Linked DNA regions of Homo sapiens: all the other regions are reported to be linked to region 3. Evidence: microRNA targets listed by miRTarBase, many of them from high-throughput screens and not tested one by one. Region 3 holds a microRNA gene; each other region holds the end of a gene's coding sequence.
The links. The annotated mature microRNA hsa-miR-6757-5p reads UAGGGAUGGGAGGCCAGGAUGA and lies in region 3 at 1,981-2,002, opposite strand. An mRNA with a match to its seed (bases 2 to 7 or 8) in the 3' UTR can be bound and repressed. Matches are read on the target gene's strand: a 7mer-m8 pairs with bases 2 to 8, a 7mer-A1 pairs with bases 2 to 7 and ends in A, and an 8mer does both.

Region 1: the mRNA of EIF4H is a reported target of hsa-miR-6757-5p. Seed matches in the 3' UTR shown: 7mer-m8 at 3,307-3,313.
Region 2: miRTarBase lists MAP7D1 as a target of hsa-miR-6757-5p. Seed matches in the 3' UTR shown: 7mer-m8 at 3,898-3,904.

The regions. Positions count from the first base shown.
Region 1 is chr7:74,194,496-74,199,558 of GRCh38, reverse strand. It overlaps EIF4H (eukaryotic translation initiation factor 4H), which reads right to left. Exons shown (of 7, transcript NM_022170.2): 6 at 4,681-4,818; 7 at 2,463-4,390. The coding sequence ends at 4,251. Among named protein-coding and RNA genes, the nearest start is that of MIR590, 5.8 kb to the right of the region's middle. RefSeq lists an enhancer at 2,919-3,420.
Region 2 is chr1:36,179,316-36,184,378 of GRCh38, reverse strand. It overlaps MAP7D1 (MAP7 domain containing 1), which reads right to left. Exons shown (of 17, transcript NM_001388490.1): 14 at 4,822-4,864; 15 at 4,623-4,713; 16 at 4,312-4,505; 17 at 3,530-4,131. The coding sequence ends at 4,121. Among named protein-coding and RNA genes, the nearest start is that of MAP7D1, 26 kb to the right of the region's middle. RefSeq lists an enhancer at 4,920-5,063.
Region 3 is chr12:53,053,883-53,058,950 of GRCh38, reverse strand. MIR6757 (microRNA 6757) reads right to left here and starts at 2,007; the gene lies at 1,939-2,007. TNS2 (tensin 2) reads right to left here. Exons shown (of 29, transcript NM_170754.4): 6 at 4,937-4,986; 7 at 4,510-4,681; 8 at 3,715-3,765; 9 at 3,261-3,383; 10 at 3,106-3,170; 11 at 1,855-1,938; 12 at 1,272-1,384; 13 at 1,118-1,178; 14 at 849-924; 15 at 506-635; 16 at 314-379; 17 at 124-237. TNS2-AS1 (TNS2 antisense RNA 1) reads left to right here and starts at 4,513. Exons shown (of 4, transcript NR_033854.1): 1 at 4,513-4,630.

The DNA of each region.
Region 1 (5,063 bases), not on the chromosome of region 3:
AGGGTGTTTACAGATGGGGAACAGTAGGTTATAATTTTAAGTACATAGTATTCATTATTTTTCTTTCATGACCAAAACATGCAAAGGGAAGACTTGTTTTTTTTTTTTAGACTGAGTCTTGCTCTGTCGCCCAGGCTGGAGTGCAGTGGCGCGATCTCGGCTCACTGCAAGCTCCCCCTCGGGTTCACGCGATTCTCCTGCCTCAGCCTCCCGAGTAGCTGAGACTACAGGTGCGTGTGCCACCACGCCAGGATAATTTTTGTATTTTTAGTAGAGATGGAGTTTCACCATGTTGGCCAGGATGGTCTTGATCTCCTGACCTCGTGATCGGCCCACCTCAGCCTCCCAAAGTGCTGGGATTACAAGCGTGAGCCACCGAGCCCAGTCTAGGAAAACCCTTAAGACTGGAAGTGTTCATGAGTCTGTCAACCTCACAAATGAGAAAGTGACTTAAAACATCTCAGCATTGGCCTGGCGTGGTAGCTCATGCTTGTAATCCTAGCACTTTCGGAGGCCAAGGTGGGAAGATCTCTTGAGCTTAGGAGTTTGAGAAGAGTCTGGGCAACATGGTGAAACCTCTACAAAAATTGAAATAGGCCAGGTGCAGTGGCTCACGCCTGTAATCCCAGCCCTTTGGAGGCCAAGGTGGGTGGATCCACCTGAGGTCAGGAGTTTGAGACCAGCCTGCCCAACATGGTGAAACCCCATCTCTACTAAAAACACAAAAATTAGCTGGGCGTGGTGGCATGTGCCTATAATCCCTGCTACTAGGGAGGCTGAGGTGGGAGGATCGCTGGAACCCAAGAGGCGGAGGTTGCAGTGAGCTGAGATTACACCATTGCACTCCACCCTGGGTGGCAGAGCATGACTCTGTCTCAAAGAAAAATAAATACAAAATAAAATAAAATCTTAAAACATCCAGCCAGGCGCAGTGGCTCATGCCTGTAATCCCAGCACTTTGGGAGGCAGAGGCAGGTGGATTACCTGAGGTCAGGAGTTCGAGATCAGCCTGGGCAACACGGTGAAAACCTGTCTCTACTAAAAATGCAAAATTAGCCGCGCGTGGTGGCCCATGCCTATAATCACAGCTACTCAGGAGGCTGAGGCAGGAGAATCGCTTGAACCTGGGAGGTGGAGGATACAGTAAGCCGAGATCGTGCCATTGCATTCCAGCCTGGGCAACAAGAGTAAATCTCCATCTCACCAAAAAAAAAAAAAAAAAAAAAAAAAACAAAAACCAAAAAAACAAAACATCCAGATGTGGCCAGGGTCTGACTTCAGAGAAGCCCAGTGAGCCTGGCCCCAGTGACCAGCTCCCTGGGAAGTCTTCCTTCAGGTTTTAGGCCGTTTCACCACCCTAAAGGCAAGGTCAACCCGTGTTCTAGGTTAATCAGCTCTTCTTGTTCTAGACTTAATCTCTGTTAAGTAATGTCCTTCATTGAGAAAACCAGGCTATTCCCTAGAAATCACCAACTAAAAATAGATGTCAGGGCCAGGCATGGTGGCTTGTGCCTATAATCCCAGCAATTTGGGAGACTGAGGTGGGTGGATCACTTGAGGTCAGGAGTTTGAGACCAGCCTAGTCAACATGGTGAAACCCCATCTCTACTATACAAAAATTAGCTAGGCATGGTGGTGGGTGCCTGTAGTCCCTGATACTTGGGAGGCTGACAAGAGGATCATTTGAACCCGTGAGGCGGAGGCTGCAGTGAGCCGAGATCACGCCACTGCACTCCTGTCTGGGTGACAGAGGGAGACCCTGTCTCTGAAACACCGGTCCTCTCTACCACCTACTCTTGGGTAGAAAGTAGTTGAAGCAAAAGAGTTACTCTAGGCTCCCACCTGAACAGCCCTTGCCTGCCTTACTAAAATTTAGTCGTGGTCCGGGGTCCTCCATCACCAGACAATGCTCCTACCTCAAGGTAGGCAAGGTCTGCCTTGGCCAGGCCCTTCCAAAGTCAGCCAGGACTTTGCCAAACACGCATTCATGCCCCGCACCTTGCCCACTCAGCTCTTCTTTGTCTGCCTAAGTCAATTTTAACACTATCCAATACCAACCTATAGCAGCACCTCCCCAGAGTCAGGATCTGCTGTCAGGAAGCAGCAGCCCTCCCAGCCATGAGGGGCACCTAGAATTTCGTTTACAAGCAGTTGTTAAAAGAAGCCACATGTTGTGTAAATGCTTGATTTCTTCCATCTTGGGAAAAAAATGTTCCTTTACCTAACCAAAAACAGCCAGACTTTCAAGGTTTCTGCCTGGTTGGGAAAAGGACATTTTTAGCAAGTGAGGGGAAAAAATTGGCATCCTATTTCTAATCATCACCAGCTTTTAAAATAACTTCACTCATCCCAGAATTAAAATGACAGGAAGACTCTTCCATTTCAATGGTGCTTCCCAAATTTAAAATTGTTACATTCCATGAGCAGCTAAAAAGAACTCAAAAATAAAGGCAAGCATTAAATATTACGTAAGGTTTTCTTTTATTTAAAAGATCATTCACAAAATACCATATCCATAGATTTACTTTCTGTCATATAGCTGAATGTGTTAAGTGTTTGGAATTCCATTCTTACATTTAAAAGTCAACTGGATTGCCCAGCAGTTTAGATGCATGTGTTTTGTTCTTTATCTTATCCACATTGAAGATGTAAGTAGGTCATCTGAAAGCATCGGGTTTGATTACACCACATAATGCATGTCTTTCTGAAGTTAAGTGTTGGTGTTACACAAATGGTTCTTATCTCAGAAGCAGAGAAGCTGACAGGTGGAAGGAAGGAGAGAGAGTTCTGTGGATTGCTGAGGCCTTGTAACAAGACACAGTAGGAAAAGCCCAGGATGACGGCTGGTGACCAAATACTAAGCACATTCCGCTGGGTGCCCCAGGCCACCCTGGCCCTGCCATCACCTGGCGAGGGCCTCTTTCCCAGGCTCCTGCTGCCGGCCGCCCCCAAACTGCTCCCCATAGGACAGACTGGGACTTGGGTACTGAAGGATTTTTCATCTGTTCACACGCAGGCGTTCAAGCTCAAAAGCCTAACCCCTAGCACTCCCACATAACTGCTGAACCCTGCACATGGGAACAGTCCAGTGTGTCCCCAAGATGTGGCCGCAGACCTAGACAGCTGCAGTCCTCTACTGCTATCTGAAGGTTCCTGACAGCTCTGCATAGTACAATTTATCAAAGGAAATGAGTAAAGTGCCAGATTCTAGACCCATTTTGGCTCTGAACTGAAGGGGAGGTGGGAAGCACAGTATCTCATTATGTTGCCTATACTAGGAACAGATCCACACAACACACAGGCAACAGGGATGGGGGGAAACGCTGCGTCAGCGCCGCAGTCAGCCCAGTGCAGCACCAGCACCACCCCCTCCACCCCCAAAGCGCCTTGGCCCAGCAGAAAAGAAACCCGCTGGCCATTCACTGCACCCAGCCAGAGAGGCCAGCCTCCACCACGCACGGCGAAAGGAGTGAACTAGCTGGGACACACACACGTGTGAATGCATGCAAGCATTCACTGCATCTTCTCCGTGGACTCCCTACCGCTCTTCCATAGCCCCCCCTTTCAGCCTCACTGTTTCTCGTGTGAGCCTATCTGCTTGGACAGTCCACTCGGGAGGGGGTCATGGAGCCAGGACTCCCTCTAAATAGGAATGGAAAGGACCCTGCAGATATTTTTATCCTAGTTGTGAAAACAAGGTGCCTCTGATTCTCTATATCCATCACAGCTGAATACCAACAAGGTCTCTGCTGTTCCCTCTGTCAGTGACTCTGGTTTTTGTTGGAAGCCCCAGCAATACAGAACTCAACATGCAGGTCAGAAGAGAAGCACTGAGGGAATGAAAGGAAACGCCTGGAGTTGGGCCAGTGTCTAAAGTAAAGAGAAAGCAAAGGAAAAATGACGCAGCACCGCAGCCCAAACGCCCCCCCACGGCGGCCACCTCTGCTCCTCCGAGGAACCCCATGTGCTGCTGGGAAAACAAGGAGCAGGAGAAAAAGGACAGAAGGAAAATGGGGAAGCAGCGGAAGAAAGAAAAAAACGCACAAACAGGCACTAGATAGATACAGCAAAGCCCAGAATGTACTAAAAACCACTTGTTAACAGCTGACATGCACTCACAAGCTGTGTTTCCGCTGTGAGGAGGCCAATGGCAGGCGCAGGAGTGGCGGCTGCAGGACGGCTGCCCGGGGACTCACCAGGCTGTGGTCCTGCTCTAACCCCCCACGCCCCATTCCCTCCCAACCGCAGGCTCATTCTTGCTCCTTTTGAACGACTTCCTCTCTAGGCCTGGCACCCCCGAAGATAGCAGAGTTGGGATTGGCTACTTGATTGAGGGGCGTCGCGACTGTTCGAGGTTTAAGCTGGAGTCGTGGTCTCTGTGCTCTTTCCTCTGGGGGAGAAAAAGCAGAGTTTGTCAGAGTGTGGATCCCATTCCATATCCAGCAAAACGACCATGCTGATGTTGCTGTCAGCAAACCAGCCCACTTTCTAAAATTCACCTGGCCTGCTACCCCAACAGCAGATGCTCTAATGACCAAGGTGAACTTGCTATTCCAGAGAACGTGGGGATCTATGCCGACAACTCTGTGTGCCGTAGAACGCCAAGTCCCCACGGGGTGTGAACCGGCCATGATCATCCCATCAGGACAAGATGCCCTCCACTGACACATGAGCCCGTACCTTCTGTGGGTTCTCTGAAATCCATGTTGGATCCACGGAGGGGAGGGCCATCTCTGAAGCGGCTGCCCATGGGGGGGCCTGTTCGCCGGTCGCCTGGGCGACTACCTCCCCTGCCCCCTAAGAAGTCATCCCTGAAGCCTGAGGAAGAAACAGGACACTGAATTACTTTTCAAACTATCGTCTCCAAGCTGCTTATAGAATAATGTTCTGGGAATTGTTTGAGTTTCATTTTAAATTCTTTAGTTTGTCCACTATCTGAAGTCTCTCCAAAATAAAGTGTGTTAAAAGTGGGTCCAAATGCCAATGTGTGGAGTAATGACAGCGCTAACAGACTTCCCAAAGAAAAAGGAATCAAGATCTTAGGAGAGCAAACAAACGAGCTG
Region 2 (5,063 bases), not on the chromosome of region 3:
GAGACCAGCCTGACCAATATGGTGAAACCCCATCTCTACTAAAAATACAAAAATTAGGCCAGGCACAGTGGCTTACGCCTGTAATCCCAGCACTTTTGGAGGCCGAGGCGGGCGGATCACGAGGTCAGGAGATCGAGACCATCCTATCCCGGCTAATACGGTGAAACCCTGTCTCTACTAAAAATACAAAAAAATTAGCCAGTCATGGTGGCTGGCGCCTGTAGTCCCAGCTACTTGGGAGGCTGAGGCAGGAGAATGCCGTGAACCCGAGAGGTGGAGCTTGCAGTGAGCCGAGATCGCGCCACTGCACTCCAGCCTGGGTGACAGAGCGAGACTCCATCTCAAAAAAAAAAAAAAAAAAAAAAAAAATACAAAAATTAGCCGGAGGTGGTGGTGTGTGACTGTAAGTCCCAGCTACTCGGGAGGCTGAGGCAGGAGAATTGCTGGAACCCCGGAGGCAGAGGTTATAGTGAGCAGAGATCACATCACTGCACTCCAGCCTGGGCCACAGAGCAAAACTCCGTCTCAAAAAACCAAAACAAAACAAAACAAAAAACTGCCTATCTGATCATGCCACCCTTCCACCCCCTGTTGAATAGCCTTCAGTGGCTTCCCATGGCCCTTGGAATAAAATCCAAGCTCTTGACCACAGCCTTACAAGGCCTTGCATGGTCTAGCTCACCTCATGCCAAGCTCCACCTCCTCAACTGACATTTCTTAATTCAACAAATATTGAGTGCCTGTTCCACCAGGCTCTGGGGTGAGCAAAAACAGACTCCTTCAGCTCTGCTTAGTCCTCTAGATACTTGAACATACCTCCTTCCCATCCACAGCCTGTGCATGTGGTTTCCCTTGTTCTGGAATCCAGTCCTTTCCCTCTCCTTCTTTCTCTACCTTCCTGACTTTGCCCAGTCAACACCTACTCACCCATCAGATCTGATTACACACCATTCATTCAGGGATATCTTATCCGACCTGAAGCTAGTTTAGGTCCCCCTGTATACGCTCTTAACTGCTCCCTATGTTTGACTTCACAGCACTCACCACATTTTCTTTTTTAACATTTGTTCCTGTGGTGATATGGTGATTTGGTTTATACCCATCTTCCTTGCCAGGAAGCGCCAGGAGCTTCTACGTCTGGTTTTTGCTTACCATCGTTTCCCTCCGGTGCTCAGCTGGTGCTCCACAGGCAATTTACTGATTGACTAAATGAATGAGTAAACAATTCCCCCATAAGAGTATTCAGAGTTCTGCCCTTCAGGGAAATGTTGGCACCTCTGCCTCACTGTACATAGGAGCTGGTGGGTGATGGCTGAGGAGGGGAGGCCGGGAGGGGCATACATATAGGAGCTCTCACCAAGCAGAGAGCTGAATGAGTGTGCTAGTCCCTTCCTGCCCCTTACTGTCCCTAGAGCGCTGTGACTTAGCCCTGCCCACCTCTCCAACCCCATCTAGCACCTCTCCCCTTTGATGCTCCAGCAAGAGGAGCTCCTGCTCCTTTGTCCCTGGAATTCCCAGCCTCCTGCATACTGACCCCTCCATCTGCAACTTGCCTCCTCCTTCCTTTCACAAGGCTGGCTCCTCCCTATCCTTCTTCAGGTCCAGTTTAAATGCTGCTTTTTTTTTTTTTTTTTTTGAGATGGAGTCTCGCACTGTTACCTGGGCTGGAGTGCAGTAACAAGATCTCGGCTCACTGCAACCTCCGCCTCCCAGGTTCAAGCGATTCTCCTGCCTCAGCCTATCGAGTAGCTGGGACTACAAGCGCGCACCACCACACCCGGCTAATTTTTTGTATTTTTAGTAGAGATGAGGTTTCACCATGTTGGCCAGGTTGGTCTTGAACTCTTGACCTCGTGATCCGCCTGCTTCAGCCTCCCAAAGTGCTGGGATTACAGGCATGAGCCAGCATGCCCGGCCTAAATGCTGCTGCTTTTTTTTTTTTTTTTTGAGACAGAGTCTCCCTCTGTCACCCAGGCTGGAGTGCAGTGGCGCGATCTCGGCTCACTGCAACCTCCGCCTCTCAGGTTCATGCCATTCTCCTGCCTCAGCCTCCCGAGTAGCTGGGACTACAGGTGCCCGCCACCACGCCCGGAGAATTTTTTGTATTTTTAGTAGAGACGGGGTTTCACTGTGTTAGCCAGGATGGTCTCGATCTCCTGACCTCGTGATCTGCCCACCTTGGCCTCCCAAAGTGCTGGGATTACAGGCGTGAGCCACCACGCCTGTCCTGTTTTTGTTTTTTGAGATAGGGTCTCACTCTGTTGCCCAGGCTGGAGTGCAGTGACACAATCAGGGCTCACTGCAGCCTTGACTTCCCAGGCTCAGATGATTCTCCCACTTCAGCCTCCTGAGTAGGTGGGATTACAGGCATGTGCCACCACGCCTGGCTAATTTTTGAATTTTTGTTAGAGATGGGGTTTCACCATGTTGCCTAGGCTGGTCTTAGAACTCTTGGGCTGAAGCAATCTACTGGCCTTGGCCTCCCAAAGTGTTGGCATTACAGGCATGAGTGCAGTGTTTTTTATACCTAATCTCAGATGTGACACACCATCACTTCTGCCGTATTCTATTGGCCACTCAACCCAACCCTGATACAACATAGGAAGGAACTACACAAGGGTGTGAATACTAGGAGGTAGGGGACATCATCGAGAGGTCATTACAGAGGCTGACGACCACATTGTCAAAAATGAGGATGCCGGTGGCTCACGCCTGTAATCCCAGCACTTTGGGAGGGCGAGGCAGGCGGATCACAAGGTCAGGAGATAAGAGAACATCCTGGCTAACACGGTGAAACCCCATCTCTACTAAAAATACAAAAATTAGGCAGGCGTGGTGGCTGGCGCCTGTAGTTCCAGCTACTCGGGAGGCTGAGGTAGGGGAATCGCTTGAACCTGGGAGGTGGACGTTGCAGTGAGCTGAGATTGCACCACTGCCCTCCAGCCTGGGCGATGGAGCCAGACTCCGTCTCAAAAAAAAAAAAATGAGGATACCCTTCCTGAAGCCCCCAGGAGGCTTCCCTTCATGTCTACTGGCTGAAACTGTGTCACATGTCCATGCCTACACCAGTCAATCATGAGGGGTTTGGGACCATTGTTTTTGATCCCAGTCACAATCACGATTCACCCCTGCGGCTAAGATCCACCTCCACTGAAGCACAGGGTGCCATCTAAAAGAAAGATGGCTACCTGAATAGAGATTATTTGGAATGAGGAAGGGGCAATGGGAATAGATGTTGAGTGGGCAGCCCACAGTGTCCACGACACTCACCCACTAGACTATAAACTGCACAAGGACAGAGATTACATCCTTTCTGACTATTGCATCCCCAGTGCATAGCCTACTGCCTGACACAGAGTAGATGCAACAGTATTTGTTGAATAAATAAATGAATGAATTCATGACTAAACTGGAAGACCATAGGGCAGGAGTTCAGGACTAATACCACCAGCCCGAGGCTTCTTCAGTTCTTAGAACTCAGGAGGCCATCTGCTCCCACCTCCGCCACCAGCTCCAAGAACAGGCAGGATTGGCAGAATTATTCTTTATTTCTGGAGACATTTAATCAGATGCAGTAACACTGATTCCAGGCGAGGGCAGGGGGCATGGGTACCCCTGAAGCAACCAGTATCCTGTGGCCCAAGGTGTCCCCCATCCCCAGACCTGGGATCCCCCTCAGTTACAGTTAAATAGAGAGAGGAAGATCTCCCCAGGGGGCTTTGGGGGGAGGGTCTGCCTCCTGCACCCACCCTCTCCACGCAGAGGAGTCTGAGCACAAGCTATTTACAGTATTCACATCCACTGTACCCCACCAAATCAAGGCAAATACTACAGGTGGCCCCTCCCCAAGGGAAGAGGCCAGAGAGGCTGTGAGTGTATATGTGTGTATGGGGGAGAAGGGATGTCTGCGCGTGCGAGCACACGAATGCACTGAGGGGCAGATCTGGCTCCGGCCAAAGAGACATCAGTCTATAAGGTGCAGATTAAAAACAACAGAGAGGACCCACCCCCAGGGGCCCAGGCCACTTCCATCTTTGTTCTGTCTTTTTCTCCTCCAGACATCCTGGTAGGTGATGCAGAGGAGCCCTCACAACTGTGCCCGGATCCAAGGCAAACCCTCTTAAAGGACTTCTGGGGAAAAACAGGAAGGGAAACAGTCAGGGCAAACAGCACTCAAGCCCAGATAGCTGGGGGTCTTCAGGGTGGAGCAGGAGAGGGTGCCTGGCAGAGCCAGAAGAGAAGGCAGGGCTGAGGAGTACAGGGAAGGCTGCTGGGAGGAATGGAGCTGGGTCCAGGAATCAGGAGATCTACCTGTGACCTGCGGGGACTGCACCACAGCTTTCTTGAGGAAGGCTTCTGCCTCTGCAAAGGGCAGGAGTGTCTCTGGTGTTCGGCTCAGACTCTTGTCCCCAGAGGGTCCGTTGGTGGAGAAGCCATTCTCCTGGTGTGCTGGGAGAGGCTGCAGGCCATTCACCAGGGACGCTGGCAACTCCTTGCTTGGGAGACTGTGGATGCAGAGGCCAAGGCTCAGCACCTCACCTCCCAGGAAAGCCCAGGCCACCCCGCAGCTCCAGCTGCAGTCTGCCTCCCTGCTCAGGGACCCTGGGATTGGAAGCTGGTACCTCCACTGAGGCTCCTGTGGGATGGGCTCCTCTTTCTGCACAGCCTCCTTCTGCAGCCCTGGGGACCGAGCCTCCACAGCTTTCACAGGCTCTGTCACAGGGAAAGAGGGGCCATCAGCCAGGGGCTGGCAAGAGAGGTGAGGATGGAGGAGGAGGAGGATGGCAAAGGGAAGGGAGGCGAGAGGAATGGGGGCTTTACCTGGGCTGGAACCGTTGGCGTTGGCCTCCTTGCTGTCCTGCTTCTGCTTTGAAGAGGAAGAGCAGTCAGGCTCAAGGGACAGCCGGCCCCAGCCACTTCGGACTGAGTTCGGCCCTCCCCTTGCCCGGGCCGCAGCGGCCTCCCTGACAGCCTCGCTCTCCGTGGCCATGGATGCCTTTCCGCAGCCTCCTTTTCACACCCTGCCCCCCACGCCCAGCACTGCCCTTCGGGGGAATTCTGAC
Region 3 (5,068 bases):
GGCCGGGGGTGTCTCTCGGGAGTGGGCTCTGCCTGGGGAGGAGGGAGTGTGCTTCTCCCTGGCACCACCCCCCAGGGTCCCGCCACAACCCTGTACCTCCCACCCTGCAGGCTGCCTGCGCACCATCCACACTGTCCTCGTGGTGCTGGTTGAAGTTCTCATAGGAGTCCCAGCGCACGGCTGGCTCAGTGGTGTTGTAGTCGACAGAGACCGAGGGGTCGTTCCGTGGAGTGCTGCCTGTGGAAGGCCACTCGGGTATTGGGGAGCAGGGGAGAGGCGGCCCTCAGTCCCCAGCCCATGTCCCTGCTCTTACCTTTGATCTTCTCGGGGCTGGAGGAGAAGACAAACTCCACGGAGGCTTGGAAGGGGAACCTCTCATCTATGGGGAGTGGACAGTGAAGAACCAGGCCCCTGGCCCATACCACACTCTCCTGCCTGCCTGCCACCTGCCTGCCACCTGCCTGCCACCTGGACTCCAGCCCCAGGCCACTTGTCTCAGACTCACCAGTCCAGGCCTCGTCAAGCTGGTCCTTGGGGAAAGTGAGCTGTGGTCCGTGGATGGTGCAGGTGTGGAACTGGACTCGGAACACGAGGGTCCGGTCTGTGCCCCGGCCACCCTTGTGATAACATGTTACCTGGGAGAAAGGCAGGAGGCTGCGGATCAGGCCTCATGTCCTCTTCTGCGCTTCCACCCTGGGGACTGCCTGGTCACAGCTTCTGCCCTGCCTCGATCTCAAGGTGATCTCCCTACTCGCTCTCCAATCTGTCTCAAATTGGTGACTGTGCCGTTACACCACCAACCCCTGCCCCATCTCCAGGATTCTTCTTGTTGACAGGACCCCCCTCACCATGACATCGCCTTTGAGGAGGAGGGCTGGCTCCAGGCTGATGCAAAGCTGCTGGGGACCAGGGCCTGCAATGTGACTGTGGGGAGAGAGGAGAAGGCAGAGATGAACCAGAAGCTCCTGCGTGCAGAGGCAGCTATGCAGTCAGGGGGAGCCAGGAGACCAGAGTCTGAGCCCTGCCCAGGTGTCTAGGGAGGCTGGAGAAGCAGGAATGCAGGAGCAAGAGGGGCCCTGGTCATGAAGTGTCAGGGGCCTGGGAATAGAGCACTCACTAGACTCCAGATGTGTAGACAAGCTGCATGGACTGGTAGATTTTAAGGAAGGGCTGGAAGCCTGGAGGGGCAGAGGAGAAGGCACAGGAGGGGTGCTGAGTGGAGAGGGCCTGAAGGTGGTTCTCCCTAGGGAGCACATCTCAGGCAGACTCACCTGTGCCAGGTTCAAAGGCTGGCAGCATGGGGATGAGCACATAGTGCAGGAAGAGAGGGCTGCTGTTCATTCTGATGGAGCCAGATAGCAGCCCACTGAAGTAGCTGATATATCTGGTGGAGGGCGTGTCAAGGAGAACATAAGCCTTTTCCTCTGGAGGTCACCTTGTATCATTTCAACCATCCACCCTTAGAAGGCTCGCTCTTCTGCTCAACACTTCCTTCCCATCTTCCGGGTCACCAGAAAGTTCTTCCTTGCATCTAACCTCAATCCCTCCTGCTCCCCTCTGCCTCAAAGCTCTTTCCCCAGAGCTCTGCTTCACTTTATAGTGGCAGGCCCTGACTGTCCTTCAGGTTCTCTTTATGACTGATCTCCTCGTCTATTTATTCCCAGGTCTACTGCCTTCCACCCTACTAGCATGAAAGCTCCATGAGAGCAGGGGCTTTGTCCACTTTGAATTCTCAGCACCTGGCACGGCGCTTGGCACACTCAGTGAAAGTGTGCTGCATGAATAAGAGAGTCTTGGCCTTGGTAGCCATGAAGGGAGCTGCTCCTCTGGCCCATCCCCACCCAGGCTGCTCACCGACGCTGGGAGGGCTGCAGTTCTGTGGCCACCTTGTCCTCGCAGAATTTCCGCATGGTAAGAGTGGCCAGTGCCTGGTCCGCCCTGGGGATAGCAAGGCCAGTGTTGGGGATTAGGGATTAATCTTCATCCTGGCCTCCCATCCCTAAGCCCCAGGGGATGGAGGAGAAATATGATTCTCTAAGTCTAGAAGAAGCCCAGAGTAGTGGTAATGAGAATGAGAAGCACCATGTACAGTCACTTTACTAGTTGTTGGGCCTCAGGCAATTGTTCCCTGAACTTTAGTTTTTTCATCTGTAAAACAGGGCAACAAAACCATCTTATGGGTTGAATTATATCCCCCCAAAAGACATGTACCTCAGAATGTGACCTTATTTGGAAATAGGGCCGTTGCAGACATAATTAGTTAAGATGAGACCATACTGAAGGAGGGTGGACCCTGAATCCAATATGATTGGTGTCCTTATAAGAAGAGAGGAAGAGACACAGACAGAGACACACAGGGAGAACACCATGTGATGACAGAGGCAGCGATTACAGTGATGTGTCTGCAAACCAAGGAATGCCAAGGCTTGCCGCCCACCACTGGAAGCTAGAAAGAGACAAGGAAGGATTCCATCCCGAGTCTCAGATGGAGCAAGGGCCTGCTGACAGCTTGGTTTGGGGCTTCTGGCCTCCAGAACTGTGAGAGAGTACATTTCCACTGTTTTTTGTTTTGTTTTGTTTTTGTTTTTTTTGAGACGGAGTCTGACTCTGTCACCCAGGCTGGAGTACAGTGGCACCGTGTGGGCTCACTGCAACCTCCGTCTCCTGGGTTCAAGCAATTCTCCTGCCTCAGCCTCCTGAGTAGCTGGGATTACAGGCGCCCACCACCACGCCCGGCTAATTTTTATATTTTTATATTTTTGGTAGAGATGGGGTTTCACCTGGCCAGGCTAGTTTCAAACTCCTGACCTCAGGTGACCTGCCCACCTCAGCCTCCCAAAGTGCTGGTATTACAGGCGTGAGCCAACGCACCCGGCCCATTTCCACTGTTTTACACCACCCTGTTTGTGGCTGCCCCAGGAAACTCTACAGACCATCTGCTGCAGACTATGTTGCAGTACTAGTGATAAAAGGGAGGTGGAAGTGCTAAGCTGACAGCAAAGGACTCTCAACGAAGAGGTGGGCTCCAGGGGAGATGGGTTCCTAAGGGGCCAGCTGGAGAAAGGGCCACTGGGGAAGCAGCTACTCAGGCGCTGGGAGCCTCACCCTGCAGAGATCTTGCTGTAGTGCATGTAGGCAGAAACGATGACCCCAAGCTTGCCCTTGTTTCCCTGACAGACAGAGAGACAGGGATGAGGGTCTGGGAGCTCCAGGCTGACCTGGAACCTCCAGGCACCAGGGAACCCGAGGTCCTGGCCCACCTTGCAGTATAGTACGACCACGTGCTGTGGGTCAGCACTGAGCCATGTCTCCATGGCTTTGCAGATGGAGCACAGCTTGTCCAGGGGTGGAGCATGCAGCTCAGGCCAGCCGAAGTCTTGAACCTGGGGAGAATGCAGGGGTGCAACTGGGGCCGGGGGCCACCAACAGAGAGAGATGGGCAGGGTGGAAAGGGGACAGGGCATAGGGGTCCGGGGGCAAGGCTGGGGGTCTGCTGGTTGTCCATGATAGCCTCGGCACTTTCCTTATCCATACAATGGGCTGATACCTGCTGCATCACGTTTTGGGGTGTCTCCAGTAATATATCATGGGAGAGTGGGAAAGTGCTTAAGAGTGAAGTAGATGCCAATTGCTACTATTAATAACGAGGAAGCTGGGGGCTTCTGGGGTTGGGGTGGCTTGGTTTAATGGTTGGGCAGGCCATTTCCTTCATACCTTGGGGTTTAAGCGGGTCAGGTCATGCCTTTTCTCTGAAAGGTTGAAGAGCTGAAATAAAGGGGGAGGGCTTTAGACAGAAATGATCTCCGGCAATGAGGCACGAGGTGGAGGTGGATCCTAAGTAAGAATCTTCCTCTAAAATAAGGTGCAGGCCGGTCGCAGTAACTCACGCCTATAACCCCAGCACTTTGGGAGACCAAGGCGGGCGGGTCACCTGAGGTCAGGAGTTCGAGACCAGCCTGGCCAACATGGTGAAACCTCATCTCTACTAAAATTACAACAATTTGCCGGGTGTGGATCGCTTGAGCCCTGGAGTCTTGAGACCAGCCTGGCCAACATGGCGAAACCCCGTCTCTACAAAAAATACAAAAAAAAAAAAAAAAAAAAAAAAAAATTGGCTGGGCGTGAGTGACGCACGCCTGTAATCCTAGCTACTGAGGCTGAGGTGGGAGAATCGCTTGAGCCCGGGTGGAGGAGGTTGCAGTGAGGTGAGATCGTGCCACTGCACTCCAGCCTGGGCAACAAAGTGAGACCCCGTCTCAAAAAAAAGGTAAATAAATAAAGAAAATAAAAAGGTAGCTAAGGCCCGGCCTAGCCAGTCACAGCCAAGTCGCCAGCGTTCCAGGATTCTCCGCTCCGCTCCAGGCCGCGCTCCGGGCCCCGCCCCCACCCCACCACTCTGGTCCCGCCCCCTGGCGGCCTCGCCTCCGCTGGTGACGTCAGTGATTAGCCTCGCCCATCTGGACCCTACATCCCTCTCATTGGCGGACTCCTGATGGCCCCGCCCCTCACCAGGTACTTGTCCCGGTGCTTGGATTGCAGCACATGGGCCAGCTCGCGCAGGTGGCCCCGGTGCCGCTGTTCATCGGGCCGCGCGGGGAAGGCGGCGGCCAAGATGCGCTCCGTCACGTAGGTGAGGTCTAAGTCCCAGCGCCGCTCCATGAGCGGGTCCAGGCTGAAGCTCCTGGGGAGGAGGAGCCTACGCATGAACGCAGGGGCGGGGCACCCGGAGGTGGCTAGTGTGACGGGAAGGCTGTCTGTTGGGCAGCAGGTGAAGCCTGCTGGGTCCTGAGGGTGGGTGGATCGGTCTGGAGGGAGAATACCGCTTTGGGGGTGGGGGGCTGTCCCGGGGAGCTCTGTTGCGGGGCAGTGCCCTGGGCTGAGGTGTGGGGCCGGCGGAAAGGGGGTCACGTGGGACCACCCCAGCACCCTCACTTACCTGGGCAGAGTGCTGCGCTGCTTTGAGTGGTTCAGAGATTTGGTGGATCCCTGGTGGTTAACAGACAGTGTCTAGACATCTCTTTGGGTACCCCCTACTCTAGACTGCCCACTCCAGAGCCATGCCCTTTTT